Linked DNA regions of Homo sapiens. The protein of the gene in region 7 interacts with the protein of the main gene of each other region in a pairwise test. Each region holds a gene or a part of one and is shown on either strand. Other genes may lie near its edges.

Region 1 (4,962 bases), on a different chromosome or scaffold from region 7:
ACCCAGAAGAGCCTTGACGGATGGTCAGGCATATAAAGACAAATGGGGTAAGGTTAAGGGGTGGAGGTCAGGGGCACATTCTACAGGGAGAAATACAGCTGATACAGAAACCTGAAAGGAAAAGCCAGCAGAGCACCTGTACAGGACTCTTCAGGAACTAGCATGCACGTGTGTAAAAAACAACTTAGTTTCTCAAACATTAGAGAAACTGCATAAGGATGTTTCTTGGTAAGTATAAAGAAAACAAGTCCTAGCATGTAGAATTCAAATATTTGAACTGTCTAAAGAGGAAAAGTTAAAGAATAAGTCAAACTCATTACCTTTTCCAGAGTTACAACTTTAGAGAATAACAAATCATCGATCAAACCAAATCATTTGAAATCCAACCCCATTTTTCCCTTGATCTTTCCCTTCTAAGCAAATGGTATCGACATGAACAAGCCATGTCATTTTATCAAAACAGTCATCCATGTTTAAAAGAGTCTTTACGGCCAGGAACGGTGGCTCACTCCTGTAATCCCAGCACTTTGGGAGCTTGAGGTGGAGTTCAAGACCAGCCTGGCCAACATGGTGAAACCCCGTCTCTACTAAAAACACAAAAATTAGCCGGGTGTGGCGGCGGAAACCTGTAATCCCAGCTACTCGGGAGGCGGTGGCAGCAGAATTGCTTGAACCTGGGAGGCGGAGGTTGCAGTGGGCCCAGGTCACACCACTGCACTCCAGCTGGGACGACACAGCGAGACTCCGTCTCAAAAAATAATAATAAAAAATAAAAGAGTCTTTTACCTTCAAAAGATACAAGCAGAAATATTTACAGATGAAGTGATCTGTCTGGAATCTGCTTCAAAATAATCTAAAGTGGAGTACAGATGAAGATTAGCCAAAAGTTTATCATTGTTGAGGCTGGCTACATTACACTGTTCAACTTTTGTACATTTGATGATTTTCCATAATAAAAAGTTAGCAGACATTTGTACTGAGCAGCTGCCATGATAATTATCTCCTGATAGTCTGTCATATTTCACTAGCAAGTCAATTTTAATAGTTTCTACCTAGCGGTGGGTGCCATTACACTAGTCCTCACTAAATCCTCCTTGTACTGAAAGTGTCTCATTCACTTCTTGCTCCATTTCTGTTGCCACTGCCTAATCCAGGTCATCACTCCTTATTTTTATCTGCAGCAGACTCTTACCAGCCTTCAATATGGTTCTCGATGGGGCACCAGTGGCACTTTAGGTGGGATAATTCTTTGCTGTGGCAGACTGCCTGAACGTTGCAAAACATTTGGTATCCCTGTACTCCTAGCACTAAATGCCGGCACAGCAATAAGACCACCCCACCCCCACTGGGATAACCACATTTCCTAATGCCACCCACTGTAGAGAACCATTTCTAATCCTGGATGAAAGATACATTCTCCCAACTTACCTGAGTAAACTTAGTAGCTCCCCACAGCCTACAAATTCAGTCTCCTATCATTCAAACCAGCCCTACCTTTTCGTGGCCATGCCCCAACTTCTACCAGAGTAATCACCCTCGAAGCCATTCAGGCCCGTCTCCTTAAAACACCTGCTTCATGACAACTACTACACTTTCTGTTTTCCACTCTTGGAAAATCCTCCCCTTCTCCAGCCTGTATCGTGGGCTTCTCAAGTCTTAGCATAAATTTTCTACTTCTAAGGAAACCACACTTTCTCAAATCTCCGTGTCTTCTTTGGGTGGAGTTTCCTCAGTCTAAAATGCCCTTCCGCCAGCCTTCCAAAATTGTAGTCACCTGTGGAAGCTCATCTCTAACTGTCTCAGCCTCTCATCAAAGCCTTCCCTGAAGCGCACCTCCCCCAAGTCAAAATTAGTTGCTTTGGCTTTCCTGATGATACCACAGGAGCTGTCACCTTATTGAACTCTTCCCCCAAGAAGACTGAGTTCTGAGAGCGAGGACGACTTCACTCAATTCTGCAACACTAGTGCCCAGAACACTCAGACGTATTCATTCAATAAATGAATTATCTCCTCAGTACAGCACTTGTCTTTTTTTTTTTGAAATTAACACACCTTCTGCCCAGATAGTCTGGTAACCATTTTAAGGTCAATTATAACATCAAGGTTTTTGCAAACGCCAGCCACCCTGCAGGCACTTGAGTACCCACTGACTCAACCAAAGGGAGTTAAAAACAAGACTTGGTTTTAGCCATGTTTGAAAAGGAGCCCGAAGCCACCACCTTGACGCCTATTATAACCAAGAGAATATTCTGCAGTTTGGACCAATATCCTACATCAATTTCACGACGAATAGCTTCACGATACACTTTTATGGAGAAACTTAATACTTCAATTCCTTTACCAAGCCTTGGGTTTCTAATGAGATTTCCGCTTAATGAGTGAGTTTTTAAAAGTGTCTTTTCGGCTTTGTGACATACGTGATCTTTCCGGGGAGCAGCCCTGGCGCGTATCTCCTTTCACCTATCCATTTTCGAGGCTTACACACAAGGGAGGGGCCACACGAATACACACTCAACACCACCTGCCGCAACGACGGTACTATGCTCCTTTCCAGAACACAGCAGCGCGCAGCCAGGCCCGGGGGAGAGGGGTCGCTCAAACAGCACCAGAGTCTGCATTCCAACTTTTCCTCCGTCAACGAGTCCATTCTCATTGTCAGTTTCTCCTTAAACGCAAACTTAAAAACAATTGGCTGAACAAGCGGGAAGAAGGAAAATCCGACTGAAAAATGAGGCGTTAAAACTTAAGGGCCGTTCCCCTTGCCGGCCTGGGCTCAAACAACAGCCGGAGCTGCGCCGCCCCGCCCCGCCCCGCCCCGGTCCCGGGAGCAGGCCGGCTGAGGGCGGCCATGGACCCCACAAGGGCTTGGGCCGCCGCGGACTCCCCCCTCGGGGCTAGGAGACGGGGACCGAGATGGGCCAGAAGCCCCCAAGCCAGCCCCTGGCGAGAAGCCGGAAAGACGCGCCCTCCGCCTCCTCCCACCCAAGCCTCGCGCAGTCCCAGCCCGGCCTGGGATGGGCAAGTCGCGGGGGAAAGGGGCGGGCCTGCCCCGCCCGGGGAGCCGGAGCCTCTCCGGGGCAGGCTCCCCTTTGTCCCGGGACTCGAAGCGCCCCCTCTCCGTCCTCGCCCTGCCCCGCGGGGCCGCGGCCGGGCGCCTCACCGTGATGTTGCAGTGGAGCGTGAGTGGCGGCGGCAGCGAGTGCGGGCTGCCCTGCTGCGGCACCAGGAACTGGCAGTGCAGCTCGTCCAGCTTCCAACTGACGATGCGGAATCGCTCGTGGTTCTTGTCGAAGATGGACGCCAGGAACTTCAGCTCGGCCTTGAGCCCTGACACGGACATCTTCCCCTCATCTCCGGCGGGAGGGGCGCGGAAGGGGAGCCGGGCGCGGAAGGGGAGCCGGGCCCGGAGCCGCCGTCACGGCCGCGACCGCCCCGCGGGGCCGGCCTGGGCCGCGCTCTCGCGGCTCCGCCTCGTCGAGCGCTGCTGGAAAATGGCGAGGGGCGCGGAAGCCTCGGCGTGTGGCGGCCTGGGTGGCGCTTCCTTTGTAACCGACTCCAGCGGCAGGAGGCGGCGGCCCCGCGGCTTAAAAGGGCAACAGCGACGCCGCCCCCGCTACCGCCTGGGAAAGGGCTGCCCCCACCCCGCCCCCGTCCCCCTCACCCTGGCGCGCCCTGCGCGCTCCGGTTTCAGCGCGTGCACGAGGCCAGAGCGCGCGCGCCCGGCCGCCCCCTCCTCGCCTTGACCCAGCTCCCTTGTTCCCGACCCATCTGCTCCGTTCTTCGCACCCGCGGACTGGAGGCTCGGGGCCAGCTGGCGCCCGGGCCCCAGAAGTCGGGGAGGAGCCGGAGACCCCCGCGCGCCCCCGCCCCCGGCCTGGAGCCGGACACGTGCGTGGCGGATCGCGCCGGCCACGTCGGCGCCGCTGCAGACTAGCGCCAGCCCCTGGGGGCGGCTCCTCAGCTTGGCGCTCGGCGCGGCACCCGCTAACCTCACTGGGGGGACCTCGTGGGAGACGCGGGTGCGGCTCACCCAGCGTTACCTCCGCTACTTTCACCCTAGTCCGAGCCACCGCTTCGCTAGCCTGGGTTCCTGTGAGGACCTTCTCACCAGCCTGGGTTCCTGTGAGGACCTTCTCACCGGACTCGCTGCTCCCGCCTTTGCTCTCAAACCATCCATTTACCCAAGACGATGGTTTAGCCCCTGGAGGCTGTTGCCTGGAGGTGTCCCATGATTTCATCCCTTCCCTTAGCTACCACCTGTGTTCACTCTGCCGTATATAGTCTCTCTCTCCCCCCTTTCCTTATTTTGCCTTGTTTCCCAAGCTTAAGATAACCCTCCCCACCCACACCCCCATGGAGCTAGGGCTGCCCACTATTTTCACTAAACTCATAGCTCAAATATCATCTCCGGCACCCCCCACCACAACCCATTTCAAATAGTCACCCTGTGTCACATCGTCCTGTGCTAAGTTTTTGTTGGGCACCTGTCACTATCTGATCTTTAACCCATTTATTCCTTGTCTCTGCCCCGTGTTAATGTGTTCAGAGCTGTATCCCCAGGACCTAGAACAAGACCTGTTATATAGTAGAAACCCGATATGATTGAATTGAATGCTCGCTCTTATCTGGAATCCCCACCACTAGCACAATTCCTGGCACATTGTAGGTGCTCAAAAAATGAATAAAGGTCTGGATAGCAGTCCAAAGGAATACATCCCAATTTGGCAGACAATAGTGTGTGCAATCGTAAGTGCAAGAGGCAGGACCAGCTGCATATGCGTCCAACCTATGTAGTTGCACAGTGCTCCCAGCTTAGAAGGGCTTCGAGCTTGGTTTAATATTCTGGTGTCGCCATTTTGAAATTCGTAATTTTTCAGAAAGGGGCTCCGCATTTTCCTTTTCCAGTCTTACCTAGAGTTACCCAACCCTGACACCTGTCTCTTTCTTCCTAATCTACAAGAG
Region 2 (4,260 bases), on a different chromosome or scaffold from region 7:
CTCAGGTGATCCGCCCGCCTGAGCCTCCCAAAGTGCTGGGATTACAGGTGTGAGCCACCATGCCCGGCCTCTCACACTTTATTTCTTACCAAATTACTAGCAGACCTGTAATGGCAGTGTTTCGACAGAGCAGTATGCACTCTCACACTCTATACTTCAGCAAGGGGGAGAGTCACCATGAGGTGAATGCTTATGAGGCACAGGTCCTCTCGTTGTCAGCCTGAGGGTCGGGGCACCTGGCCCAAGCCAGTGCCAGGGACAGGAGTGTCGGACCCTAGTCCTGTCAAATACTCCAAGCCAAAACAGGCTAATTCCCATATCCAGAAGCAAAGAGCAGAGTCTAGAAAGGCAGTTTCTCCTCTAAGTGCCTAGAGTGCACACCAGCAACAGCTGTGAACCCTGCATACCTGGACCCCTCCCCTAAGGACCCCACACCAGAGACTCTCTCCAGCCCCAACCTGAGTCAACCTGGACCCCGCCCCCCTCAAGGGCCCCACACCGGAGATTCTCTCCAGCCCCAGCCTGAGTCAAGCATGGCTCTGTGATGTCCCCGGCATGCGTCCATTGGGAAAAGACCAGAGAGTGTCCACAGGCCCCTGGGCACCCCACTCACCCCGGGGGAGGGTGCAGGAGCACCTTGCCAATGCCATGACTGGGGCACCAGGCTCGCCCAGCAGGGGCCGGCAGAGGCCTGCGTGGCAGCGACAGTCAGCGCAGGGCGATCAGTGGCGCGGAGCCTTACCACTCGAGAATATTCGAAGGGAGGGGCTCGGCACAGATGTAAGGCACCGGGTCTTTCTTAATGCGAAGGTAGTCCTGCTTCAGCCTCTGGGTTGCCGTGGTCGGAGCCCTCTTACTGCTGGTGCTGCTCATCTGTTAAAAGCAACGTCTACACTGACGACGAGAAGCAGCGCCGGCCACAGCTCTCTCCCCTGGCGCAGCCCCACTCCCGCCTCTGCAGCCCGCCATTCATTCAGGGCCCGGTCACCCAGAGTCACAGCTCACAGGTCACCCTCGCTTGCCACCCGCCCAGACACCCAGAGGCCCTGCGGCTTCTCTCTTCCCGTCTGTCCCGCCACCACCTTCATTGACACGACGTACAGCTCAGGTACAAAGACGAGGAGAAACCCAAAGCCTCGTTCCTGTCCTCCAAAAACTCACGCAGGGATACATTTACAGGGCTTGAGGGGGTATTCGGGCCACAGCCTCAGACCAGCTCCTGAGGGCAGCTACTCGCACCTTCCAACTCAGCTCAAGGACCCCGCACTGATGGAGAATCCACACCATAGAAGTGGGCAGGCACCACCGCCGGCCCCTTCACCGCACCCGGAAGCCCGCTGCCCAGCATTTACCACTAGCCACAAGCAAAACGAGCCGCAGAACGGGGGAGCCTCTGCGGCTGGAGGGACGAGGACTCTGGAGACTCCAAGGCACTCACTGGGCAGAGCAGCTGTCTTCCTGGTAGAAGGGGCCACAGGTGAACAGGCCACACCTGAGAAAGTGCAGTGTGCAAGGGCCCAAGCACAGTGAGGGCAGGGATAAGACTGGCCAGGGAGGCAGGGCCAGGGCATAAGAGTTTATTTACTTATTTTTCGTGAGACAGGGTCTTGCTCTGTCGCCCAGGCTGGAGTCACTGTGGCCTTGACCACCTCGGCTCAAGCAATCCTCCCACCTCAGCCTCCTGAGTAGCTGAGACTACAGACGCATGCCACCACGCCTAGCTAATTTTTTTTTTTTTGTAGAGCTGGGATCTCACTATGTTGCCCAAGGTGGTCTCAAACTCCTGGCCTCAACTGATTCTCAGGCCTCAGCCTCCGGAAGTGCTGGAATCACAGGCAGGAGCCACGGTAACCCGGGCCCCACAGGGGTTTGGGGTCCAAGCCTCAAGGCAGATCATATCTTCTGTTAGGAAAGTCACTCTGGTGGCTCCATTGGGACGTTCAAGACAGCACTGAAGGCCGAGCATGGGGCGCGAGGCACCATGCAAGAGAGGAGGCTGGATCAGGGACCCCAAGGCCCCTCAGCCACACCCGAGACTGGGGAGAGGGGTGGTGATCATCATGCAAGAGAGGAGGCTGGATCAGGGACCCCAAGGCCCCTCAGCCACACCCGAGACTGGGGAGAGGGGTGGTGATCATCATGCAAGAGAGGAGGCTGGATCAGGGACCCCAAAGCCCCTCAGCCACACCCGAGACTGGGGAGAGGGGTGGTGATCATCATGCAAGAGAGGAGGCTGGATCAGGGACCCCAAGGCCCCTCAGCCACACCTGAGACTGGGGAGAGGGGTGGTGATGAAAACAGGGCTCCCTGCTGCATCAGACTAGCTCCAACTCAAACCTTATTTTTTTTTTTTTTTTGAGATAGAATCTCACTGTTCGTTGCCCAGGTTGGAGTGCAGTGGTGTGATCTCCGCTCACTGCAACCTCTGCCTCCTGGGTTCAAGTGATTCTCCTGCCTCAGCCACTCAAGTAGCTGGGATTACAGGTGCCTGCCACCATGCCAAGCAAATTTTTTTTGTATTTTTAGTAGAGACGGGGTTTCACCATGTTGGTCAGGCTGGTCTCGAACTCCTGACCTCAGGTAATCTGCCCACCTCGGCCTCCCAAAGTGCTGGGATTACAGGCGTGAGTCCCCGCGCCCAGCCATGGCCACACGATTTAATAACGTCTGTGGACATCAGTGGCCATCGATAACGGACAGTGACCAGTGATCTCCATCCTGACCTCCCAGTTCCCACAAACCGGAAGTCTACTCTACCCAGTTTCCTTGCTGATATGCTTTGGCTATGTCCCCACCCAAATCTTATATTGACTTGTAATCCCCATAATCCCCCATGTTGAGGGAGGGACCTTGTGGGAGGTGACTGGATCATGGGAGCAGTTTCCCCAAGCCGTTCCAGTGAAAGCGAGTTCTCAGGAGATCTGATGGTTTATAAGGCAGTGTTCCCTGCTCTTGCCCGCTCTCTCTAGCCTGCTGCCATGTGAGACATGCCTCTTCCCCTTCCGCCATGATTGTAAGTTTCCTGAGGCCTCCCTGGCCACACGGAACTGTGAGTCCATTAAACCCCTTTTCTTTATAAATTACTGAGTCTCGGGTACATCTTTATAGCAGCATGAGAACCAACTCATACACCTGTAGACAGCCACACATTCCACCTCCTTTCAGTCTCCACCTGCAAGAGATCTACAGACTTGGCCTCTCTAACCGGTTTATTCCTCCTCAGAGAACCACCACCAGCAGCCTGTTTAGTGTCTGCTCCCAACCTGAGGATGTCAATGGCCAGGGCTTGGCTGCTCACCCCACACACCCAGGGCCTGGAGTGCAGAGCTCAGCCAGGGCACCCAACGCGTGCTCCCAAATGTGTGGCCTCAGCACCACCCCCAACCCTGCTTCTTGTTCTGGGGTCCCTGACTCTTGCAATCCTTGTTCACCACAGCCTTCCCACTCTCATTATCTTCTCTAACGCAAAATGTCATCACTTCTCCCATCAACACCACAGGAGCCTCCCAACTCCCCCCGTGGGTCCAGAAGGTCTGAGCTTCTAGTCTCTTCCCATTTCAAGGCCCTCCTGTACCCATAAGTCAACATACTGTTCCGATCACCCACTCCCCCATCCACCCTTCAGGATACTCCACAGCCAAGCAAATAAACATCAACACGTCCTCTTGCCTGCCAGCCCCTTGACAGAGGCAGCCCCAGCCAGCCCTCCTCATTCCCAGCTCCCAAGACAGAGCAGCCCCAGCCAGCCCTCCTCGTTCCCAACTCCCAAGACCCAGCACGGCCCAGGTCCCACTCCAAAGTCCTGACCGACACACTCCTTCTCACAGCTGCTTCCCAGCCTAGCCTGTACTGGAAACTCCCCAGGCCCTTCCCGGCATAGCCAGAGCCACCGCCTTCAGAGGCCTCCCTGATTTCCCTGCCAAATGCCTCCCACTCTGTCACACATCACTGGCCTCCATGTGACCCCACACACAACGCAGGGCCCTTCTGGGCCCCAGCGGGTTCCTCTGCCTAAGGAGTGCCTCCCCAGGAGGGCCCCCACCAGGGATGGGGTTACAGTCCTGCCTGGGAAGGAAGTGCTTCCACACAGTGGCATCCCCAGCTCCTGGCTAAAGAAGCCAATGGGCCAGGGATCTCCCCTCAGGCCAACACCTGGTGATGGCCACAGTGATGACCCCAAGCAGCACCGCCACACAGGCTGTCCTTTCGACACTCACCCTGAAGCTAACACTCTGCCATATACAAAATAATTCACTGGAC
Region 3 (4,260 bases), on a different chromosome or scaffold from region 7:
TCTCACTTTAATCTTACAACCTCTCTGAAAGGTGATCAGGGTGGCAGTCACCTCATGGCACAAATGGGGAAACTGAGGCTCAAAGAGATCAAGAGGCTTGTCCAAAGTCACACAAACAACTAGGAAGGAGCAGAGACCCCAGGCTTCATTTTCCACCAATGCCAGATGAAACTCTGTGTTGGGACCTCATATCTGAGCACACTGTGTAGCCATGAAAGTAATTTTTAAACCACCATTAGCTTATTTTATCTCCATAACATCTCTGTGAAGGAAACTGGAAATATTATCTTTTTAAAACGGGGGATCAACTGAGGAAGAAACAAATGACCTGCCCAAGATTACCACTCAAGAAAGTGGCAGAGACTAGACCTCCTCTCCTTTGAATACACTTGACCTCAACCACTTCCCTATAATATCTTGACCTCCACACACTCACAACTTAAAGGAGCACATGCAGTTTTTATGTAGGTTGCACCATGTTTCTGTGAACTAGGCAGGGGACAGACATACCTTTGTTCTCTTTCTAATGGCTGGGTAAGAAAAAAGAGGTTATAGAAATCTTTAGGTTCCTTTTCAGCTCTAAAATTCTATGATTCTAAAAATTCTCCAGCAAGTTGATGGGTAAGAGATGCCTGGAATCCACATCACCTAACTTCCTCCCTTGTAGTCTATTAGGCCACCCTATCCCTGCCCTGCGAGTTAAGGACTACAAACATCACGTGTGCCTGGAAGAGGGGGGTCCACTCTGACATAGGTGCACACATAAAATGGCAAGAAGGTGCTACTGCCTGGTTAGGACCCCAATAGTGAGCTTCACTTTGCCCTCCTGCTTCAGCCCTGGTATCTCCCAGCAAGAGGCACCCAAACCACAGGAGTCATATATATCCCAGGTATCTAAGAACTTACGCAAGCCTGGGGCAAGAGAGAAGCCAGTCCCAGAGATAGAACACCACTCTGAGGTTGCAGTTTAAGTCCCTTCATTAAGATACCTGCCTTAACACCCATCTAAGGTAGGAGATCAATCAGACGTGTTCACTTATGCTTTTCTATAGACTTCACCAACTCTAGTTTTATCCAACAACTATTTACCAGGCACTGCTCTTGGTATCACAGAGTGAACAAATAAAAATCTCTGACAACATGGAGCAAGGGGAGACAACCAATATCAGAGGATGACATAAGCAATGGAACAAAATAAAACAGGAAAGGGAGGTACATAATGCCGAGAGCAGGTGATAGAGGGAAGGGGATAATTTTAAATGAAATGGCCTGGGAGGGTTTGATTCCTTAAATAGGAGACTGGGACAAGGAGAGAGAGGGACCCATTCAGATATCGGGGGGTTGAACAAGGTGATGGAGAGCATGAGATGGCTTAAGAAAGGTGAGCAGGTGAAAATCATATCATATCTTGTAGACCAACACAAGAAGTCTTGAATGAGATGCAGTGTCACAGGAGGCTTGAGCAAAGGAGTAATGAAATCTGACTTACAGTTTAGAGTATCACGCTGGCTAGTGGGATGGAAATAGTCTGTCGGGAGACAAGGGAGGAAGCAGGAAGGTGAGTTCACAGGCCAGTGGTAGCTCAGACCAGGGTGAAAGTGGTGGAGATGGTCAGAGTCAGGTTCGGGACATATTTAAGGCAAAACCAACAGGATTTATTGATTAAATGGATGTGAAGTGTGAGAGAAAGGGAGAAGTCAGGGACGACGAGAATTTTAGGGGCCTTGGCAAGCGGAAGGATGAAATCATCATGAACTGGGATGGGAAAGACTTTGGGAGGTACAGGGATGGGATGGGGGTTCATTCTGTTTTGGACACGTTAAACTAGGAAGCCTTTTAGACAGCAGGTGTGGTGAGCAGGCAGCAGAATATCCAAGGCTGAAGTTGCAGAGAATGGGCTGAAATTATAAATGTGGGAGGAGTCACCAGCATATATAATACTACATAATTCTATGTATGATCATGTGTAATTTGCATGACTATGTGTTTACTGTCTGCCCCCTACAAGACTGTAAGCTCCATGTGGCCAAGGACCACGTCTGTTCACAGCCAGCAGGGTGCTTGGCACTCAGTACATACTTACTGAGCAAATGGAGAAGTTGCCCAATTACTCCCTCAAGAATAGCCACACAGCCCACACAAGAAGCAGACTCTCTTGCAACCACAGTGCCAAGCCCAACCAGCCCCAAACAGGGCCCTGGGTCTGTCCACCCCGAGCTTGAGATTCCAGAACGTAAGTGGATATGCCTGGCACATCACAGAGTCAGATATTTGGGTTTCAGCCCTGCCACATTCTCAAAGGGTGGAGCTGGGCAAGAGACTTGCCTGTTCTACCACCTCTACCTCTCCCTGGAGTGGCTGGGGGAGAGGCTGCTTCACCCAGTTCATGGGCAGAGATATTTATCTACCTAGTGTACATGTATGGGGTGGCAAGAGCCCCCACCAAAGGAGTAAATCCCCAAGTATTCTCCGAAGCATACAAGAACCACCCAGCATCTGAAGGAGAAGAACACAGACCTACTGGGGATGCATTAAGAGTAACAATCCAAAAAAAATTTTTAAGGCTGGGTGTGGCGGCTCACGCCAGTAATCCCAGCACTTTCGGAAGCCAAGATAAGAAGATTACTTGAGGCCAGGAGTTTCAGACCAGCCTGGGCAACATAGCAAGACCCCATCTCTACAAAAAATAAAAAGTTAGCTGGGCGTGGTGGTGCACACCTCTAGCCCTAGCTACTGGGAAGACTGAGGGGAGAGGATCACTTGAGCTCAGGAGTTAAAGGCTGCAGGGAGCTATAACTGCACCACCATACTCCAGCCTGAGCGAGAGAACAAGACCCTCTCTCTCAAAAAAAAAAAAATATATATATACATATATACACACATATATATACGTATATATATACATATATACGTATATATACGTATATATGTATACACACATACGCACACACACACATATGAGTGACAATCACAAAACTTGATGAGACGAGAGGACCTCTCCCTTCTCCCTAATGCAAGAATCCCTGACCAGACAGTATTGTGTCTCTGCTTTGTCTACCAAGTGACTAAGAAGGCAGAACTAAGGACAAAGGGTGACATTACAAGCCATAAAGATTTCACCTCAATAACTTTCTCGCTTTAAACAGCTGCCTTTGTGAAGATGATAAAACAGCTCTAATGATCTTGTATAACCCTCCCCCTTTCTGAAATATTGAAAGTGTGACCCAGAAAGGTTAGATGACTTGCCCAGGGTCACTGAGTTATAGGCCCAGGACTAGAACTCAGGTCCTAGCTCCCTGTTGAGGCTTTCTTCCCATTACATTAGTGCCAAAGGAAGGTAAGAGTTACAGTGGCGCTGGGGGAGTTTTAGGCATTAGTCTTACAACGTAAAACTATGTCCTTGTCAAAGGAAAAGCCACAGATGTTACAGGAATGCCAGGTGCACTGTGGAGTTAAGAAGGATTCCTTCCCTTGTACCAAATTTGTCATCCTACAGAGTTCCCCTCGGCTTTGGACTTTATGAATAAAGCTATTCATAGTAGGACCCACAGAACTAAAGCAATGATAAACTAGCAGGTAAAAAAAAAAATGCAGATATATGAAAAATGCAGATGGTAGGATGAAGTTGAGTTTGCTTTCTAAAATCAACAAATACTGAGTGCTACTTCTGTACAACTCATTGTGTTAAGTGCTGAATGTGTGTGTGTGCGTGAGAGAGACATATACTACAAGGATAAGACAGAACCCAGGTCTTCAAGGCTTGCAATGTAGTTGCTGATAAAAGACTGTAAACATCAAAGACATGATTAATAATACAGAGTACATAATTGTTAAGTAAGTGGCATAGATAATGTGTCTGCAGGAGTTCTCAGAAGGAGCAATCACTTCCACGGGGTGTGTGTGGTGGGGTGCGGAGGGAGGGGGAAATGGCAGACTTGTCAGGCAAGGTGCTTCAAACAAGGCACGGCACTTGAAATGAACCCAAAGGATGAAAGACTCTCGATAAGAAGGAAATGGCACGAGCAAACACTGGTGGTCTTAATGTCAGAGAAGGGAAAGAAATCAGGACTTAAAAGAAAGGACTGGCCCACACTTGAACAGCCTTGAAAGTTAAAGTACTTGTAGGAGTGGGAAAATGCAGAAAGGTGTTTTGTTGTTGTTGTTGCTGTTGTTTTGTTTTTTTTTGAGACAGAGTCTCGCTCTGTCACCCAGGCTGGAGTGCAGTGGCGCAATCTCAGCTCACTACAACCTCTGCGAAAC
Region 4 (4,260 bases), on a different chromosome or scaffold from region 7:
GCTCTGAACGCTAGAAATCCCCACAGGGCTCAAAGAGGGGCAGGAGGTAGCAGCCAGCTGGGAGGTGGATGAGACAAGGCGTTAAATTGCCCTGGTCTTGTGGCTGACCCACAGGGGAAAATTGAGGGTTCTTCATATTTGTGCCAGAATATCTGTCTAATGTTGAATCATGAACCAAGCTCTCTTGTCTAAAATATTCCTAAGTGTCACTTGGTGCTTTGCACCAAATATAGGAAGGAATCCTTTATCATCTTGTGGAATGGTTCAAACCTTGACTACACATCAGATTTGTAGTCTTCAAACTGGTGAGTCTTCAAAACATACCTAGACCAACTGACTTAGGATCTCCAGAGGTGGCCCAGGCTCTGGTATTAAAAAACAAACTTCCCAGGAGATTCTAAAGTCTATCCAGGACTGTGAATCACTAGAACCCCTTATTTACAGAGGAGGACAGTGAGTGCCAGAGCCTCGGACTCATTTGCCCAGCAGCAGAGCTGGCTGGCAGCAAGGCCAGCACTAGCACGAGGTGGGGTGAGGTGCACCTCCCAGCTCTGGGCTCCTTCCATTCCACCATACACTGCACTTTGGTGCCTGGAAAATGAACTCTTCCCTGCCCATATGGAGTGCTGTGGAGGGTTAGCCTCACAGGCAGAGGAAATCATCCGCCGGAGAAAGGGTAGCGGTGAATTTGAGGAGCTGACAATTGGCCACAGGTGGAGTGCAGTGAGGCGAGCAGAGGAAGGGTGGAGAAACAGGAGGGAACAGATTATGCAAGACTGTGACCCAGGTTAAGAATTTTGGACTTTATCCTAACAGCCCTGGGAAGCCATTGAGGGTTTAAGCAGCAGGATGTTGAAAGTTATTCAACAGCTAGCAGATGTTTATTAGGTGCCGACTATGTGTCAGGCACCGAGGTTACAGCAGAGAACAAAAGTGGCAAACTCCCTGTCCTACCAGAACTTACATCCAGTGACCTGAGGAATCCTTTAGAAGCTGAAATCAGATCCAACTGTGGGATCATCAAACCCTCAAGGGTTTCCTGATTTACATAAACCTCCTCTCCCCTTTGCTGCCCCAGTGCTGCAGCCACTCTGGCCTTTTGATCCTCAAACACACTCGGTCACGTGTTAAACTGCCAATCTGCCCGGGTGACCAACCAGGTTAAACCCCTCAATGGCTTTCTGGTGCTCCAGGAATAAAGTCAAAACTCCTGTCCTTCCTTTCTTCTGTGAGGAGGCTGTCCCAGGAGATCCTAGCTGGATTCCCAGATAATCATGGCCCAGCCTGTGTCTCCAGGCTCATTTCCTGCCACTCCCCACCTCAAACTCACAGCCAAACCAAACCGCTCTCCATGCCTCAAAGTGCTATGCTCTTTCCTGGCTAAGCCCTTCGACAATGTAATTCCTTCTGCCTAGAACACCATCCCTTTCCCACTTAGCAAATGCCTTTTCTAGCTTGAAGTCTCAGCTGAAAGCCACCTCCTCTGGCAATTCTTTCCTGACCTGTCAGATTGGGTCCACATGTAGTCTAGTTATACAGCCCCAAAACACCCCATGCTGCACCCTGTACTTCTCTGCAGTTTTAAGTCCTGACTTATTAGTGTAATTACTCGCTTAACACCAGCTTTTTCCATGAAACAAGGAGAGAGATTGTGTCTGTCTTATCACCAGAATCTACATATTACTTGGCACAGAGTAGACAATAAAAACTGACTGAGAAAACAAAGCACAAGCACAGAGTATCTGACACAAAGAAGATGCTTCCTACACATCTGCTGAAGGAATGCGAACAATCTTAGCCACCTGCCCTTTCTCTCCAGCAAGATGGTAGTAAATTGGTAGAGAGAGAAGCAATTTCTTCATATTCCCTGTAGCAGCAAGAACAGTGGGCTGCACGTCACCAGCAAATCATCGTATCCAAGGTTTCGCTCCAGCAACTTACAGAAACCAGGAGAAGAAAAAGCTGTGTCTGAGAAAATGGTTGTTGTGGAGTAAATTGTAATAGTGAGAATCACTCCTTCCCTTTTCTTTAGTTTTAGACCTAGGTATACACCCCATAAACAGAGTTTATTTTCTCAGGTTTTGAGCCTCAAATGAATGGAATTTTTTTCCTTTTTTTTTTTTTTTTTTCCATGTATTTGGGTGGGGGGCTGTCAACATGTTTGTGAGGCTCATCCATGTGATTATGAGCTGATTTTACTTAATTGCTGCTCTCTAACTATACAATTTTTAATGCAGTCTACTGATAGCCATATGAGTTGTTTCCAGTTTGGGACAATTACAAACACTGCTTCAGTGAATATTTCTGCATACATGTTCTAGCACACACAGGCAAGATGTACCCTCAATTTGACTAAGCAGGCCAAACTGTTTCCAAAGTGACTATAGTGCTATGTAGTCTGCTCAGCAGGCTATGAGCACTCATGATGCCCCACAGCCTCACCAACACCTGATAATATCAGCTTTAATTTTTGCCACTCTGGAGGATGGGATATAGAATATGTGTGTGTGTGTGTGTGTGTGTGTGTGTGTGTGTGTGTGTGTGTGTATTTAACTCCCCAAAAGGAAACAGCATGAGACAGGCCCAATAACAGGCCAAGGAATCCTATAGCAGCAGACCAGATATTGTGCTCCTCGACCCAACCAGTAAATGTTGTAAATGTTTATCTTTGGGGAGAGAAGGGGAAGGGCCCACCCAGCTTCTGTTCTTCTTTCCCTTGGTAACTTACCATCTATGAGTTAGTGAGATGGAGACATCCTAACCATTAATCCAGGGAAAGGGAGGAATCTAAGCCATCAGCAAGGGAGTTAGTGCTTTTCATCAAATTTGAGACACCTGTGACATCACATTTTAGCATCTCTGAAATGTGATCAATTGCATGTCATAATTTAACTGGCAAAATATTTTTTTGATGTGGAGCATAAAATAAGGGCACATAAAAGATTTGGTGGTGCTGTGGTTTGAACATGTCCCCCAAAAGTTCACGTGTTGGAAACGTAATTGCCAATGTAACGGTATTAAGAGGTGGGGTCTTTAAGACGTGACTGGGTCATGAGGGTGTAACTCTCATGAATGGATTAATGCCTTTCTTGCAAGAGTCCATTGGCCAGAACCGTGAGCTGAATAAACATCTGTTGTTTACAATTTACCCAGTCTGTGGTATTCTGTTACAGCAACAGAAAATGGATTAAGACAAATAGCATCTTAGATTTGGTGAGATGTGGCATATTTCCTAAAAAGTGCTGCCAGGATCATCCTTCTAGCACACAGGATCTCATCCTTGTTATTCTCCTGCTTCAAATCTCCTAGCTGAGGCTGGGTTTGGTGCCTCATGCCTATAATCCTAGCACTGTGGGAGGCTGAGGCAGGAGGATCCCTTGAATCCAGGGGTTCAAGACTAGCCTGGCCAACATAGGGAGAGACTGTCTCTAAAATAAAATAAATAAATAAAAATAAAAATAAAAATAAAAACAAACACACCAAAAAAACTCCTACTAGCTGAGGTCAAAACTGCACAGGTGGCCGGGCACGGTGCCTCACGCCTGTAATCCCAGCACTTTGGGAGGCCGAGGTGGGCAGATCATGAGGTCAAGAGATCGAGACCATCCTGGCCAACATGGTGAAACCCAGCCTCTACTAAAAATACAAAAATTAGCCGGGCATGGTGGCACGCGCCTGTAGTCCTAGCTACTCGGGAGGCTGAGGCAGGAGAATCGCTTGAACCCAGGAGGCGGAGGTTGCAGTGAGCTGAGATCACGCCACTGCACTCCAGCCTGGGTGACAGAGCGAGACTCTGACTCAAAACAAAAAAAAAAAACTGCACAGACATCCTCCCCTGCCCTGCATCCGGCTAGCCCCAACTTACCCATCCAGCCCCAAATCCCTCCTCGTCCTACCTAATTCTCTGGCCATTAGATACACTGAACCAGGAAGACAGCCCCTTCTTCACTCCCCACTCTCCACCCATTCCCTTGTACATGCTCTTCTCTCCAGTCCAGCGCATCCTTGAAGGCTTGAATACAATTTGTCCCCTTATCTGTGAGGTGTTTCCTGTACCCATCCCACCTCTGAGTTGAATGTATCCCTCCTCCTGCAGCTTTGCATACACTGTATTTCTACAATAGCACTATCACAGTGCTTCATACAGTAGCACCCCCCATCCGCTAAAGATACATTCATACAGGAGTCCCCTCAATCCTCAGGAGATGCATTCCAAAACCCCCAGTGGATGTCTGAAACCTGTTTCTCCTACACATACAC
Region 5 (4,260 bases), on a different chromosome or scaffold from region 7:
ACCATTCTTAAGTGTCAACACCCAGCAGAAAATACAAAATACAAATGTCACCACCACAATACCCACCTCAAATCACCAAATTGGGTAAAGTGTAACATGGATTAAGGAATGCTTTTGTGAACTCGTGGCTGATGGGATTGGAACTTATATGCCCTGTTTTGTTTACTTTTGGAAACTTTAACCACATTTTACTTTTTTATAAAAGTGATGTATTCATTTTCAGAAAACCTCAGTGAATCAGTATCCATAGGCAAACTAGCTACCGATGGAACTACTACTAATATTTTGATGCATTCTTTGTAACTTTGCTTCTAGTATACATGGTTAAATAAAAATCTGATCATAATTATACATACTAACTCATACTCTATTTTTACTGAGAAATATGGCATGAACTACTTCCCGTATTTACAAATATTCTTTCCTAATAACAGTTGCCACCTGGTACTTTATTTCATCTATGGATTGCAACCTATTTTACTCAGTTACTATTGTTGGTATTTGGGATACTGATTTTTTTTTTTTTTTTACAAAGAACGCTCCAGCAAACGTACTCTGAGTTAAAACTTTATGTACGCTTTTGATACCATCCTTAAATTCTCAGAATTTCTGGACAAAAGCATACATGTGCTTTGATTAGATGAGGCTCTAATCGTTTCATTCCCATAACTGCACTTAAGAGTCCCAGATCCTCAAACTCTTGATTTTAGGAGTGTAAAAATGGTCTATTTTTACATGTTTTTTTATATAAAACAACAGGGTCTCACAATTTTAATTCACTTCATTTCAGTTGTTAGTAAGCCTGCATTTTTTTCAAGATTTTTAGCCATTTAAATCACATTGATTGATAAAACACTTTATATATTAAATGTTGCAAATATTCTCTCCCCATTTAACAGTCATCTCTTAGATTTTCTTTACAGCATTTTCTAATCTATAAGAAGTTATTTTTATAAAGCTAAACCTATTGGTTTTTCCTTTCTATTTCTGTTTAGAAAGTTCTCTTTCCTCATTTCAAGGTTAATATTCATCTACATTTTTTTTCTATATTTCCTAGGGTACATTTAAATCTTTACTTCTTCTAGAAAGTATCTTCATCTGTGTGAAGGCAAAACTATTATTTTCCTCCCAAATAATTGTCAAGTGTTCCTAGCACTATGTCTTGACTCCTCCCATCATCCCTTTGTTAATTTGACACGCTTATTGTGTGTGAAATTATTTTATATACTGGGAACTGTCTCTGGACTTCCTAATTTGCTTCATTGGTGTGTGTGTGTGTGTGTATCCTGGTATCACACTGTTTTAATTATTGAAGTTTTGTGGTATTGATAACTTGTCCACAAGGACATGTACAGGGAATTTTCTGAGGAAGAAACACAAACCAGCAATAAACATGTGACAAGATGTTTGACCTCACTAGTAATCAGGGAAGTACACATTAAAACAATGAGATGACATTTTTTACCCATAAGATTGGAAAAGAACAAAAACAACATTAAAGACTGAGAATATCCAACATCGATGAGAATATATGATAAACAGACTCATATTCTATTGGCAAGAGTATAAACTGACACCACTTTTTAGGAAAATGGGCACTACCGATTGTGATTCTAAATGCCAATCCTCAAAGGTTTCACAATTCCATTATCTAACCTACACAATAGTCCCAAATGTGCAAAATGACAAATATGTATCTTTATGTATATTTTTGTATCCTGACACAGTATGATCCTAATTATGTAATTAAAACCCCCAAACAATAATTCTGTGTCAGATGACTGTATTAGAATGTGCTTACATGACACACAGAAATAGTGTGGAAGGATTGGGCCCAGGGTGGTGGGGCAGGATCCTAGTGTTTAAATGCTTTACAATTGGAATGTACTTGTGTATTATTTGTATAATTTAAAGTTTTTTACTAACTAGCAAAACAAAGCCTCCATTTTTACCCCGATTTTTCAGACTGGTTTAGGCTGGACAAGCTGATTGATTCTTCCAGATTCATTTTCATCAAATTCTCTTCCTCTGCAACCACCTTCCCATCTCCTCCAAAAAGACCCACAGAAAGTTTGCTGGGAATTATATAAACAATGTATGGGTTTGAGGGGAATGTGCTGTTTTGATGAAGACTAAAAGTAAAATCTGTGGTTAGGGCATGAATTATACGTAAATGAAAACTGGGTTCTAAGAGAGTCTGAAGAGACTTCGTTGTATCAGCTAAACATTCCCTCTGTCAACTTCTAACACCATCAATTTGCTCCGCAAATTCTCTCTTCAGGGAAAGTTTCTGCTCAACCCCTGATCAAAGCTACCACGATGGCCTGAGTATTAGCTTCTGAATTATTCAAGGTTTCTCTGTACAATAAGGGCAAGAGGAACCACCGAGTCTTCCAAACAGAAACGGCCCACCATGGGTGCTAGAAGCTGGCAAGCCTCCAGACGCAGGGCCAGGCCCTTGGCAGCCTTAATTCCCACCACAACTAGGAGCACGCAGGCTGGCCTGTAGCATGAGGAGGGAGCTGGGGGTCTTCCTCCCCAGGGATGTCGCACCTCCCCTTCCAGGGAAACAAAACCCAAACACCTCTATGCTCAATTGCAGGAAATAGATATTTGGTATCTGATTTACCCATGAGAAGGAATACACACAAGAGGTTCAGATGCCCTCTCGTGTTATATAACAATGCAACAGGTCCCCGCTGAAAGACAGTGGGAATTTGTACTGAGATCCAGAGAAACGGGCCAATCCCTCCCTTCCCCCAATTCTGTGCTCTGTGGGTACCAGAGGCTCAGAGAATGGCACAGCTGTCCTGTTCTCCACATTTGAATAGGCCGGACTCAGTTTTCTCTGAGTTTTTGGTATTCTCTGGTCACACATTTGCACAGGCTGCCAGAGGGGGTTATTTTGTACTTCATTGGCAAATGTCACTTCCCATGGACTTACATTTTTGTTCAAGAACTTGCCCTGGTACCTGTGGTTCAGGTGAATGAGCTCGGCCGTGCCCTCCTGCTGTCCGTTCACCCAGGTGCCAACATACTTACTGCCCGTCTCCGCGTATAAATAGGTGCCTTGCCCATGCCTGGTTAAGACAAGGGGAACATGGTATTTCGTTCCAGCACAGTGAAAAATCTCCCAGGTTTAAAACACAGACATTGACATTGAGGGAGGCCCAGGCTGTTGCAGGCTCACAAGCGATGTAGCTTCTATATCTGTGTCCAGTCAGAAGGTGCCCCTTGCTCAGTGTGCCCCAAGCACAGGACATTGCCAGAGGCACAGAGGACAGGCCAGCTGGACAGAGGCAAGCCTCCTGTGTGTCAGCTGCTTTCCCCAGGGAAGAGGCAGAGCTAGTGGGAGCTGTGGCTCAGGTCCCCCAGTGGCTCTTCTGTGCCCTCCACTCCCTGGGACTCTTGGGTGAAAGACTCACGTGCTCTGCCCCAACTGAGGTGCAGATGTCAGATACTTGAGTCTACACTTGCACAGAAAGGCATCCTTGCCTCAAAGCCATAGAAAGATTGGACCTGCCTGGCAGAGTTGGTAACTGGGCTTTTGTTATGATTCTGTTCCTCAGTAAGTGTAAACAATCTGCAGACATCATGTTCTCATTACATAAGCAAATCCCGTTAAGACCCAAGATAGAAACCGAACCTTTGATGAGCAAACCACTCTCCAGTGTAGGTGTCATTATTGATGTAGTAGTATACGCCATGGCCGTGCCGCAGGTCATTTGCCCACTCTCCTGAAAGGAACAACACAAAGGCAAGCCCAGGTGAGAAGAAGGGATCGATGCCCTGTACCATGTCTTCAAATTGTTAACCATGGCAAAGGCAGATGTGTTGTGAAGCAAATGAAGCCCATGCACACACAGGCCCCTTCTGCTCAGGAAATCCTGCAGAAGAGAGATTTTTAACAGCACCGACCAAGGCTGCTATCTGTTTCCACTCTGACATCCCTCCACCCCTTCCTTTTGTGCCAGATGGCATAGGTGCTGAGCCACGGTGGACAGTGGGCTAAGAGAGGGCTGAGTCAGGAGTTCACGGGGTACAGAGTGAGGTGTATGGATGTGGGCCACAGCCACCTGCATGTACTGACAAGCACATTTCACAGGTTAGTCAGAGGCACCACGAAGATGCAACGAGGAGGGAGACAAACCAAGGTTGTCTGACCCATTGCCAGTGATCCTAACACCACACTTCATTTACCTTGCAAATGTTTAGAGATCCAGCAACAACTCCAGGGCTTGACCATCTATCCTCAGCCAC
Region 6 (4,866 bases), on a different chromosome or scaffold from region 7:
GGTTTTGTTCTTGTATGCATCCAAGCACCTAGAAAAGCACCAGGCACGTAGTAGGTACTCAGTAAATATTTGTTCAATGAACTAACTGCATGAATAGAGGGATATAAATAATCACATTAAGGAATGGAAAATGGGCAGGGCAGAAAAGAAGTACAGACAATTAAATGCTATAGGAAATTAAGCTGCTCGTTGACACAATCAGTCAAAAATATCTACTATGGCCCAGTTACTCATGGTAGTTTTAGTTAATGAATTAATTAATAGAAAAACAAAAGAATGAGAAGTATTCATTAGTAGCCTCTACTATTAATAGAGGTGCTTAGACAGGGAAGCCAAAAAATTGCCCTCAGAGTCCAGCCTCCCAGAGCTCATAGTCTATTTTGGGAGGCAGGTCCTGAAATTACATCCGAGACAGGGAACAACTGCAAGGAAAGTGGGGCCAGCCCAGCCCCATACATTTCAGGCTGCCTGTAGGAGCCAAACACACAGTGCAGGCTGGCTTCTCTGCAAGCAGGCCACTGTCCCATCTGTGCCATGAGGAGCTGGGCTCAGTGGTTCTCAACCCTGACTGCACATTCAAAACACCTGGAAATTTGACAGAAACAACACCTATGCCTGGGGCCCCACCGGAAGGGATCTGGCTTCAGAAAAGGCAGGCAGGGAGGTTGGCAGTGGTCTTTGGTGAAGCTCCCACACACAATGTTGACCTGCAGCCAGAGTTGAGTCCCCCCAGCCTACATGCTCTGTAAGTTCTGAACCTGGTTCTAACGGTTTCCCTCCTTAGGCATCAACTCAGCCCCAAACTCCCCAGTGAATGCTCCCGCAATGGGGAGCGCATTAATTTCACCTGCCATCACATCTCAGACCCATTTTTCCCAAGATGCGGTTCCAAAATAACCTGCATCGGGTATTTGTTAAGTGCTGATTCTTAGGTCACCTTCCAGACCTGCTGCATCGGAACCTCTACAGATGGGGACTCTGGAATCTGTTTCTCAAACACGTTCTACAAGTGATTCTCAGGAACAATCAAGTGAGCGGACCATGTCCCAGACTAAATGAAGCTCCCAGGCACACCTGGAGGATGGCTAGAGGCTGGGCCAGAAAGCGCACAAACACTAGAGAGCACCTACTTGTGCTCAGCACTGGGACAAACCAATGAACAAATAGGACAGGTCACTGCTCTCAAGGCACCTAAGCATGGAGCTGAGCACAGGCCAGTCAGGGCGAGGGTGCTAGCATCCCTAGCAAGGTGCTGCTGCTTGTCATCCAGAGAGGAGAGACTCTTGAGAGCCAGGGGGATCCAGGGTGTCCTCCTGGAGAAGGTGGCATTGCCCTGGGCTTTGAAATACAAATAGACTTGAAACGGTTGGAGATGTTACATTCTATTGTATGGTATTTCTGTTTTCCGAGGAGATCATCAGTGCAAATAAATAGTAAGGCATTACAAAGAAGGAATACAGAGATCTGGGGGGAGATAGCAGCTGCACGTGTTCGGGGTACTTGGGCGAGGGCAATAGTAAAGAGGGGCCTCAAGGGATTTGGTCATCTTCCCGACTCAAGGGCAATACCCACTCCAAGCGCTGGTAGCTCCCTGCCATGACCACTGACCTGAACACATTTAACTTCCCTGGGTTTCAATTTCCTTATTTGCAGAATGGAGACATTGGTAGCCACCACAGGACTGTTACAGGACAAGGGAAAGAGCTGTGAGCAGACCCAAACGAGTGTTAGAGCATCCAGAGCCCTATGCTAATGTGTGCCCTGCCCAGTGTCCTTAGGGAATTTCTTTTCCAGCCAATGGTGACACCGCAATTTCTGCATAGCAAAGCCTTAGGCAGCATCAGGTGGACACTGGAGAAGGAAAGACTTTGTCTTGAAGTTGCTCTTGCATAGTGAACTCCCAGGCATGTCACCAATCAATGAAAATAGTGAAATTTTCTTAAACGTTTCAAATCACATCTTTCAAAAGAGGAATACATATAACTTGTCCCACAGCAAAGAATAAAAGCTACACATAAATCTCCCTTTGCCAAATCATGTCTTTCATCTATCATTATCTTGGGGGTGCTTGGAGATATGATTCAGATCATGGGTCAGACTGAAAAGAGTTCCCTTGGTGCCTGCACTGAAGGAGGCTTATGAAAACACCAGCTACTCTTCCTTCTTCATTTGACTATCTTTTCTGATACGTAGATTTTTATTATTATTATTATCGATTCCACAAAGCTACAGGGTATGGCTCCTGGCTAAGTGGAAACCCTCTTTCCTCTCCTGATTTATCTTTCTCTGCAGAACTGGGGTCCTGACTCACAGCTATTGTTCCTTCTCTTAATTTTGACAGATCCTTCCTCTTCCCTTTCCCCTCCTGAGACACCCGCTCCAGTGGGAATCTGCCTTGGAGGGGTTGGGGGAGGGGGTTCAGGACGCCTGGTGAGAAGAGGAGTGTGTGTGTGATTTCTCTGCTGCCCCACACAGAAATACCTGTATGTATTCTAAGCACTACATGTAGGGACTTAGCTTCTTGAATTTAGAGAAAATATCCTTGACATTCCTCAAAACTCCTTGTGTCAAGGCCATTTCCATCCTATTCTGTTCCTTTTCCTACTGATTAAGACGGGGCAGATTCAATACAGCCAATGTTGGATAAAGATGGGTGAATGAATGAATGAATGAATGAAAAAAGACACAACTTTCAAAGCACATCATCTACACGCCCCGTTTTTCAGAGGCCCTGATTCCTCTCTACCTTCTGCACCCATCTTCCAACTTACCCTTATCCCCACTACCCAGTAAAAGCTCGGACTTTATTTCCTCTGGGTGTCAGTCTTAGAAAAGTGATAACCGCTGACCTACGGCACTTTCGCTTTTCCAATTTTTCAAAGCCCTGTGGCATTTATTGTGCTCTGCTTATTCCTCATCGCCCCCCTGCAGAAGTCGGGGCTGGGATTTCCGTCCCTGCTGACAAAGGGAGAAACTGTGGCCTGGACTAGGGTTAGCTCCGGAGCAGGGGCTTCAGACCCGCCAGTGAGCGCCGAGAGTCGGGTAGCACCCGAGCATGGGCGCGGCAGCCACGGGGCTCTCACCTCGGAAAGTCAGGCTTGCGACAGGGTCGCTGCGCCGGTCCTTCTTCGCACTGGGGAGGTTGCTGGCCCTCACCAGCAGGCAGCACAGCATGGCTGGGCAGCCCCGGCGGCACACAGGCGCGCAGTCAGGGCGGGAGCGGGAGCACCGGGCCCGAGCACCCACCCAGCAAGCGCCCGGCTCCCAGGCAGCCGCGCCAAGAGAGCTGTCGCCTTCGCTGCTCCTCCGCGGAGAAGTGACCAATGCCTGGGAGAGGCTGCAGGGAGGACACCGGACACCCGCTGGGCGGACCCTCCCCCTCCGGCCCCTACCCAGATCCGCCCTGCCCGCGGCGGGCGGGGAGGGACAGGGGTCAGACGGGCGCCTGTGGGGGTGCTGGTCCCTAGCTCCGCGGGTCCCAGCTCCCGGCCAGGAACGAGGCGCCGCTGACGCGGGCGCGCAGCTCGGCCTCCGAGAGCGCACAAGGCGCCGTGGGGCCTGCTCCGCGGGGGCCTCCGGTGACCAAGGCTCCACACCAGCCAGGGATCCCGGGCCCGGTGCGCACCGGTGCCGACTTGGCAGCCGCCCTGTGCGCTCGACGAAAGGGTGAGAAGGAGGCAGGAGTGCAGGCGGAAGGAGTGGGCAATCAGCGGCGGGGACGAGAGTGTGTCTTCGGGGAAACCAAGTCTGAGTGAGCGCTGAAGGGGGAGTGTGCGGAGCGTGCCGTGCACCCCGAGCCCCCCGCCTCATTGCCTCTCGCCTCTCTCCACCTGCCCCATGATCTGCGCCAGGGAGCCGGTCCTCTCCCGTCCGCAGGCTGTCTAGGTGGCCGTTCTGGTTTGCTGGGACCCCCGGGTCGGGAGAGACTCCGAGGTTCGAGTCCCCACCAACCCTCCTCGGAGCCTTCTCCGCAGCGGTGTCGAGTCACTCATCTCTGGAGGCAGAGATCTGTATTCAAATCATACTGCGTTCCCTGGAGAACTAGGGTCCAGCTGCGGCCCATTCTGTCCCCTGCAAGTCCCCCATCCCCAACAATCTCTACACTCCCTAGTCTCCACAGTGGAAAGCTGTTCAAGGTGTAAGCCATGAACGGTGACAGTCGTTTCGCTTATTATGTCTGGTTCCTTTCCAGCGTATGAACTTCTTGACACAGGGGCCCTGGCTTCGCACTTCTATCCCCCAGCACTCCAGCACCTAGCCCCTGTCAGGGCACTGTCCGTCTTCCCACCGCCCAAGTCCTCACTAACCAACCTGCTCACTCAGCCTAAACGCACTGCTGCGCAAAATCTCAACTCCCTTTCCCCTCTCTTATTTTGAGGGATACAGCATTCTCACAGGGCTAAGCCATAACCCTGGCGAATCCAACTCCGCCTCCTCCACACCTGCCCCCAACCAGTGCTGTGTTGGAGAGTAACACAGCCGGCCTGAGTGGTGCCTTTTGTAGTCATGACCCTTAACTCAAGCGAGCCCTCACTGCTGGGGGCAATCATACTATATGTCTTGTCTCCCTGTCTCCCGGATGCCCCTAGGACACCCCATCGCCCAACCTCACTCTCAGTTTGCTTCCTCTTTACGGAGCAGAGAACTTCTTCAGGTCCCCAGTCTCCTTCTAACGCCCGCCCTCGGCATCTGTGCCCAAATCCTGTGAGTTCTCTCCTGTTCCTACAAATGAATCACCCGTACTCCCCACTGGTAACAACTGGACACTTGGGCATAGACCCCATCCCCTCTCGCCCATTCAGTGGTGAGCCTGCAGTGATTCTCTCACTCTCTTGCCTTACCAAGTTCCCCTGTTTACCGGATCAT
Region 7 (4,260 bases):
GAGGTTGCAGTGAGCCAAGATCATGCCACTGCACTCCAGCCTGGGTGACAGAGCCAGACTCTGTCTCAAAAAAAAATATATATATACATATTATATTATATATCTATAAATAAAATAAAAATAAAATTTATCAGTCTTTTACAGCATCTATCATTTCAGCCTGGTTCAAAAATCCACCCATATCTGAGGATTTTTTTTTAATTAATACACATTTTTAATGTTTTAAGTTGCTAAACATTTAAACAGTCAAAATCACTAGGAAAAAAATATTACACACACACATTTACCACCCAAATGAGAACACACAATCCTTCAGACAGATGCACATCTGAGGATTTATAAAGAAATTGTCCTATATTTTCTTTTAAATAAAAAGGTTAAAACTTTTGGATTTTTTACATTTACTTCTTCAATCTATCTGGAATTAATTTCATGAATGGTATGAAATAGGAATCTAATTTTATTTTTTCCTTAGGGAGAATCAATTGTTTCAATACCATTTATTGAGAAATCTATCTTTTCCCCAGAGACTGAAATGCTATTTTAATCAAATGCTCATTTCTGCATGAAACACAGGGAATACATCTCTGGCATTCATTGTGAGCACTTATCACACTCTTTATCCTAATGGCCAGTCTACCAGTCTGTCTCTTCTATCGGACTACTGAGTTTCTTGACGACAGGCACCAAGACTGGCTGACCACAGAACCTCTAAGATTGGGCACAGTGAAAGACACTATGTAATAAAACCTTGTAAAATGAAAAATTAGGATGTATAGATTAAACAAACTTGAAACCAATAATTAATCTACTCTCTACAAACCCCACCCTAACCTACTGGAATCCTATGACTAATATGAACATGCCAGATGTGCCCTGCCCAAAGGCTTCACTTTCTGATGCTTAGATATATTCAATCACCTTAAAGAATGTACCCAGGATTATTTGTCCCCAAAATTTAAAGAACTCACCTCCTAGATGAATGGGATGGTCTACATTCATCCATTTGGATTTGGGCAAAGCCACCAACACCCCTTTCTCCCTCTTCATCAGCTGCATCGTAATGGTATCACCAACAACATACTGATGTGACTCTGTGGCAACAACACTGAAACATGGACACTCATATGTAGCAGGGCAAGGAGTGAAGAGATTGGGATCTAACTGAGTAAATGTCTCAATCTCACCTCTTGAGATCCTTCTTATGCACAGAACTGTAACAGATGGGACATTTACTCCACGTCTTCTCACTCAGTGAAAGATAGTGCAGGATGCATGCCCAGCAGAAGATGTGTCCACAACGGGTTATCTTGGCTGCAGTAGGTGGATAGAGGCATATTGGGCAAGATGGCACTTCATGGCTACAAATGCGCTGAAACAAAATGCCACCAGAAGGTTCACTGCTTGAAGAACTGATTAGGGACTGTCAAAGTTTTAGGCCTCTCTACTCTCTCATCCGCATCTCTCTCATCTCTATCCCCGTACATCCTTATACTCAACATATCTTTCTAAAATTGTTTACAACGTAGGTACATGTATGATCATTTTTTTCTTTTTTTTTTTTTTTTGAGACGGTCCATCTCCTTGGTTCACGCCATTCTCCTGCCTCAGCCTCTGGAGTAGCTGGGACTACAGGCGCCTGCCACCACGCTCAGCTAATTTTTTAGTAGAGACGGGGTTTCACTGTGTTAGCCAGGATGGTCTTGATCTCCTGACCTTGTGATCCGCCCGCCTCGGCCTCCCAAAGTCCTGGAATTACCGGCGTGAGCCACCGCGCCTGGCTTTGTATGATAGCTCTTTAAGCAAAGCATCAAGGAAACCATAATAACCGTTAAATATAATAAAACTAATACACAACAGGTATGTTGGGGGTTCTACATTAAATAGAAAAAAGTGACAAATCACTATATTCCCATTTATAAAAAAACTTAATATGTATGCATAAAGGCCTAAAAAGGGTCTAGAAGTAATCTACCAGTAACTTCCAACAAAGAACGCATTAAAAAGACTTCATTTTTTTTTAATAAAACTTAAGTTTTTATGCTATGTCATTCTCAGATGATTTTATACATTTTCACAGTAGTGAGAGTTCAAGCTTTTTTTTTTTTTTTTTTTTTTTTTTTGAGACGGAGTCTCACTCTGTCACCCAGGCTGGAGTGCAGTGGCGCCATCTCGGCTCACTGCAAGCTCCATCTCCCGGGTTCACGCCATTCTCCTGCCTCAGCCTCCCAAGTAGCTGTGACTACAGGTACCCGCCACTGCGCCGGGCTAATTTTTTTTTTTAGTAGAGACGGGGTTTCACCGTGTTAGCCAGGATGGTCTCGATCTCCTGACCCCGTGATCCGCCCGCCTCAGCCTCCCAAAGTGCTGGGATTATAGGCGTGAGCCACCGCGCCCGGCGAGAGTTCAAGCTTTAAGGTCAAAAGCCCCTGCTCATAAAGAAAAAGTGCCCATCATTTTGAAATTATTATTCTTCAACAGATACCCTACTAGGACCAACAAGGGGATACCTAGAGTTTATAACTTCAGTAGAAAACACATCAGTGGCTTTGAAAGTGCAACTGAAGCTGGGCGTGGTGGCTCACGCCTGTAATCCCAACACTTTGGGAGGCCGAGACAGGTTGATCACTTGAAGCTGGGAGTTTGAGACAAGCCTGGACAACACGGTGGAACCCCGTCTCTAATGAAAATACAAAAATTAGCCAGGCATAGTGGTGCACGCCTGTAATCCCAGCTACTCAGGAGGCTGAGGCATGAGAATTGCTTGAACCCAAGAGGTGGAGGTTACAGTGAGCCAACATCGCGCCACTGCACTCCAGCTGGGGCGACAGAGCAAGACTGTCTCAAAAAAAAAAAGAGGCCAGGTACGATGGCTCATGCCTGTAATCCCACCACTTTGGGAGGCCAAGTCGGGAGGATCACCTGAGGTCAGGAATTCAAGACCAGCCTGACCAACATGGAGAAACCCCATCTCTACTAAAAAAAAATACAAAAAAAAATTAGCTGGGAGTGGTGGTGCGTGCCTGTAGTCCCAGTTACTCGGGAGGCTGAGGCAGGAGAATCGCTTGAACCTGGCAGGCAGAGGTTGCAGTGAGCCAAGATTGCACCACTGTACTCCAGCCTGGGCAACAAGAGCGAAACTCCGTCTCAAAAAAAAAAAAAAGTACAACTGGGCCAGATAGAGTGGCTCACGCCTGTAACCCCAACACTTTGGGAGGCCAAGGTGGGTGGATCACTTGCAGTCAGGAGTTCAAAAACAGCCTGGCCAACAAGGTGAAACCCCGTCTCTACTAAAAATACAAAAATTAGCCAGGCGTGGTGGCGGGTGCCTGTAATCCCAGCTACTCAGGAGGCTGAGGCATGAGAATTGCTTGAACCCTGGAGGCAGAGGTTGCAGTGAGCCAAGATCACACCACTGTACTCCAGCCTGGGCAACAGAGTGAGACTCTTTCTCAAAAAAGAAAAGTACAACTGTGTGGCTCATTCATGTGCCTCCCTGCCACAAGGCTGAGGCCTACTTTGATAGTGATTGCTACGAATGGCTGCCAATGAAGCAATGGCCCTGTAATGAGCCCAACCCAGATCAGGAGGGTAAGGGGTTACTACTTCCCAGCTTACACATCTTCAGATCAGAGCCTTTCATACACCATCCCTACAGGCCAGAGCCAATTAGTCACAAAATGGACTCCAGGAAGAACCAGGAACTGACCTCTGGGAAACATCTATAGAAAGGCCAGGCAGAAAAGGGTATCAAGCAGTGCACACAGCCAACAGCTGCTGCGTCACCACAGTGCCTTTATTTAGTGCTCCCATTCATAGCTTATGGGCTTGGCTGAGCTACTCACCACTTGTTCCACAAAGTCCCAGTTAACTAATGTATCAGGATCAGCAAAATGAGCTGTGTAGTCTTGGTCTTCAGACACCACAAATTGGCAGCTAGAAATAGGAAAGACAGGAAAAAGCTAGACTGTCAGGATCTACCAATAAACCCTCAGCAGAAATTGTCATCTATTCACTTAGAAATCAAATGCAGGCCATTAGCAGCCCTGGTTCATGAGGCACTGCACTAGGACCTCAGCCTCAGTTCTGAGCTCCAGCTCTGGAAAGAACCCAAAGACTCAGCAGGCAGAAGTCTAAATCCATGAACTGTTTTCTTCTGCTTCAAGTCCAGCCAAATTCCCCAAAGGCATCCCTTGAACTAAAATTAACCTAGACCGTGACTCCATCAAACAGCAGTAAGCCAGATTTCCTCTCTCACCC

What was found.
Region 1: the proteins of RNF10 (region 7) and UBE2Q2 interact in a two-hybrid assay, tested with the Homo sapiens proteins (one large-scale study listed by IntAct).
Region 2: the proteins of RNF10 (region 7) and UBE2J2 interact in a two-hybrid assay, tested with the Homo sapiens proteins (one large-scale study listed by BioGRID).
Region 3: the proteins of RNF10 (region 7) and UBTD1 interact in a two-hybrid assay, tested with the Homo sapiens proteins (one study listed by BioGRID).
Region 4: the proteins of RNF10 (region 7) and TRIM26 interact in a two-hybrid assay, tested with the Homo sapiens proteins (one large-scale study listed by BioGRID and IntAct).
Region 5: the proteins of RNF10 (region 7) and RSPH1 interact in a two-hybrid assay, tested with the Homo sapiens proteins (one large-scale study listed by BioGRID and IntAct).
Region 6: the proteins of RNF10 (region 7) and DYSF interact in a two-hybrid assay, tested with the Homo sapiens proteins (one large-scale study listed by BioGRID and IntAct).

What each region holds. Positions count from the first base shown.
Region 1 is NC_000015.10:75,842,045-75,847,006, reverse strand, and holds the start of UBE2Q2 (ubiquitin-conjugating enzyme E2 Q2), read right to left. Parts: upstream 3,561-4,962; 5' UTR 3,341-3,560; coding exon 3,161-3,340; intron 2,964-3,160; exon of another isoform or gene 2,654-2,963; coding exon of another isoform or gene 2,522-2,653; intron 1-2,521.
Region 2 is NC_000001.11:1,267,120-1,271,379, forward strand, and holds part of UBE2J2 (ubiquitin-conjugating enzyme E2 J2), read right to left. Parts: intron 874-4,260; coding exon 743-873; exon of another isoform or gene 651-742; coding exon of another isoform or gene 614-650; intron 1-613. UniProt on the Homo sapiens protein: Catalyzes the covalent attachment of ubiquitin to other proteins. Seems to function in the selective degradation of misfolded membrane proteins from the endoplasmic reticulum (ERAD).
Region 3 is NC_000010.11:97,501,518-97,505,777, reverse strand, and holds part of UBTD1 (ubiquitin domain-containing protein 1), read right to left. Parts: intron 1-4,260. UniProt on the Homo sapiens protein: May be involved in the regulation of cellular senescence through a positive feedback loop with TP53. Is a TP53 downstream target gene that increases the stability of TP53 protein by promoting the ubiquitination and degradation of MDM2.
Region 4 is NC_000006.12:30,206,405-30,210,664, forward strand, and holds part of TRIM26 (tripartite motif-containing protein 26), read right to left. Parts: intron 1-4,260.
Region 5 is NC_000021.9:42,482,725-42,486,984, forward strand, and holds part of RSPH1 (radial spoke head 1 homolog), read right to left. Parts: intron 3,738-4,260; coding exon 3,647-3,737; intron 3,081-3,646; coding exon 2,945-3,080; intron 1-2,944.
Region 6 is NC_000002.12:71,465,151-71,470,016, reverse strand, and holds the start of DYSF (dysferlin), read right to left. Parts: upstream 3,319-4,866; 5' UTR 3,175-3,318; coding exon 3,084-3,174; intron 1-3,083. UniProt on the Homo sapiens protein: Key calcium ion sensor involved in the Ca(2+)-triggered synaptic vesicle-plasma membrane fusion.
Region 7 is NC_000012.12:120,554,394-120,558,653, reverse strand, and holds part of RNF10 (E3 ubiquitin-protein ligase RNF10), read right to left. Parts: intron 3,937-4,260; coding exon 3,846-3,936; intron 1,373-3,845; coding exon 1,188-1,372; intron 1,109-1,187; coding exon 972-1,108; intron 1-971. UniProt on the Homo sapiens protein: E3 ubiquitin-protein ligase that catalyzes monoubiquitination of 40S ribosomal proteins RPS2/us5 and RPS3/us3 in response to ribosome stalling.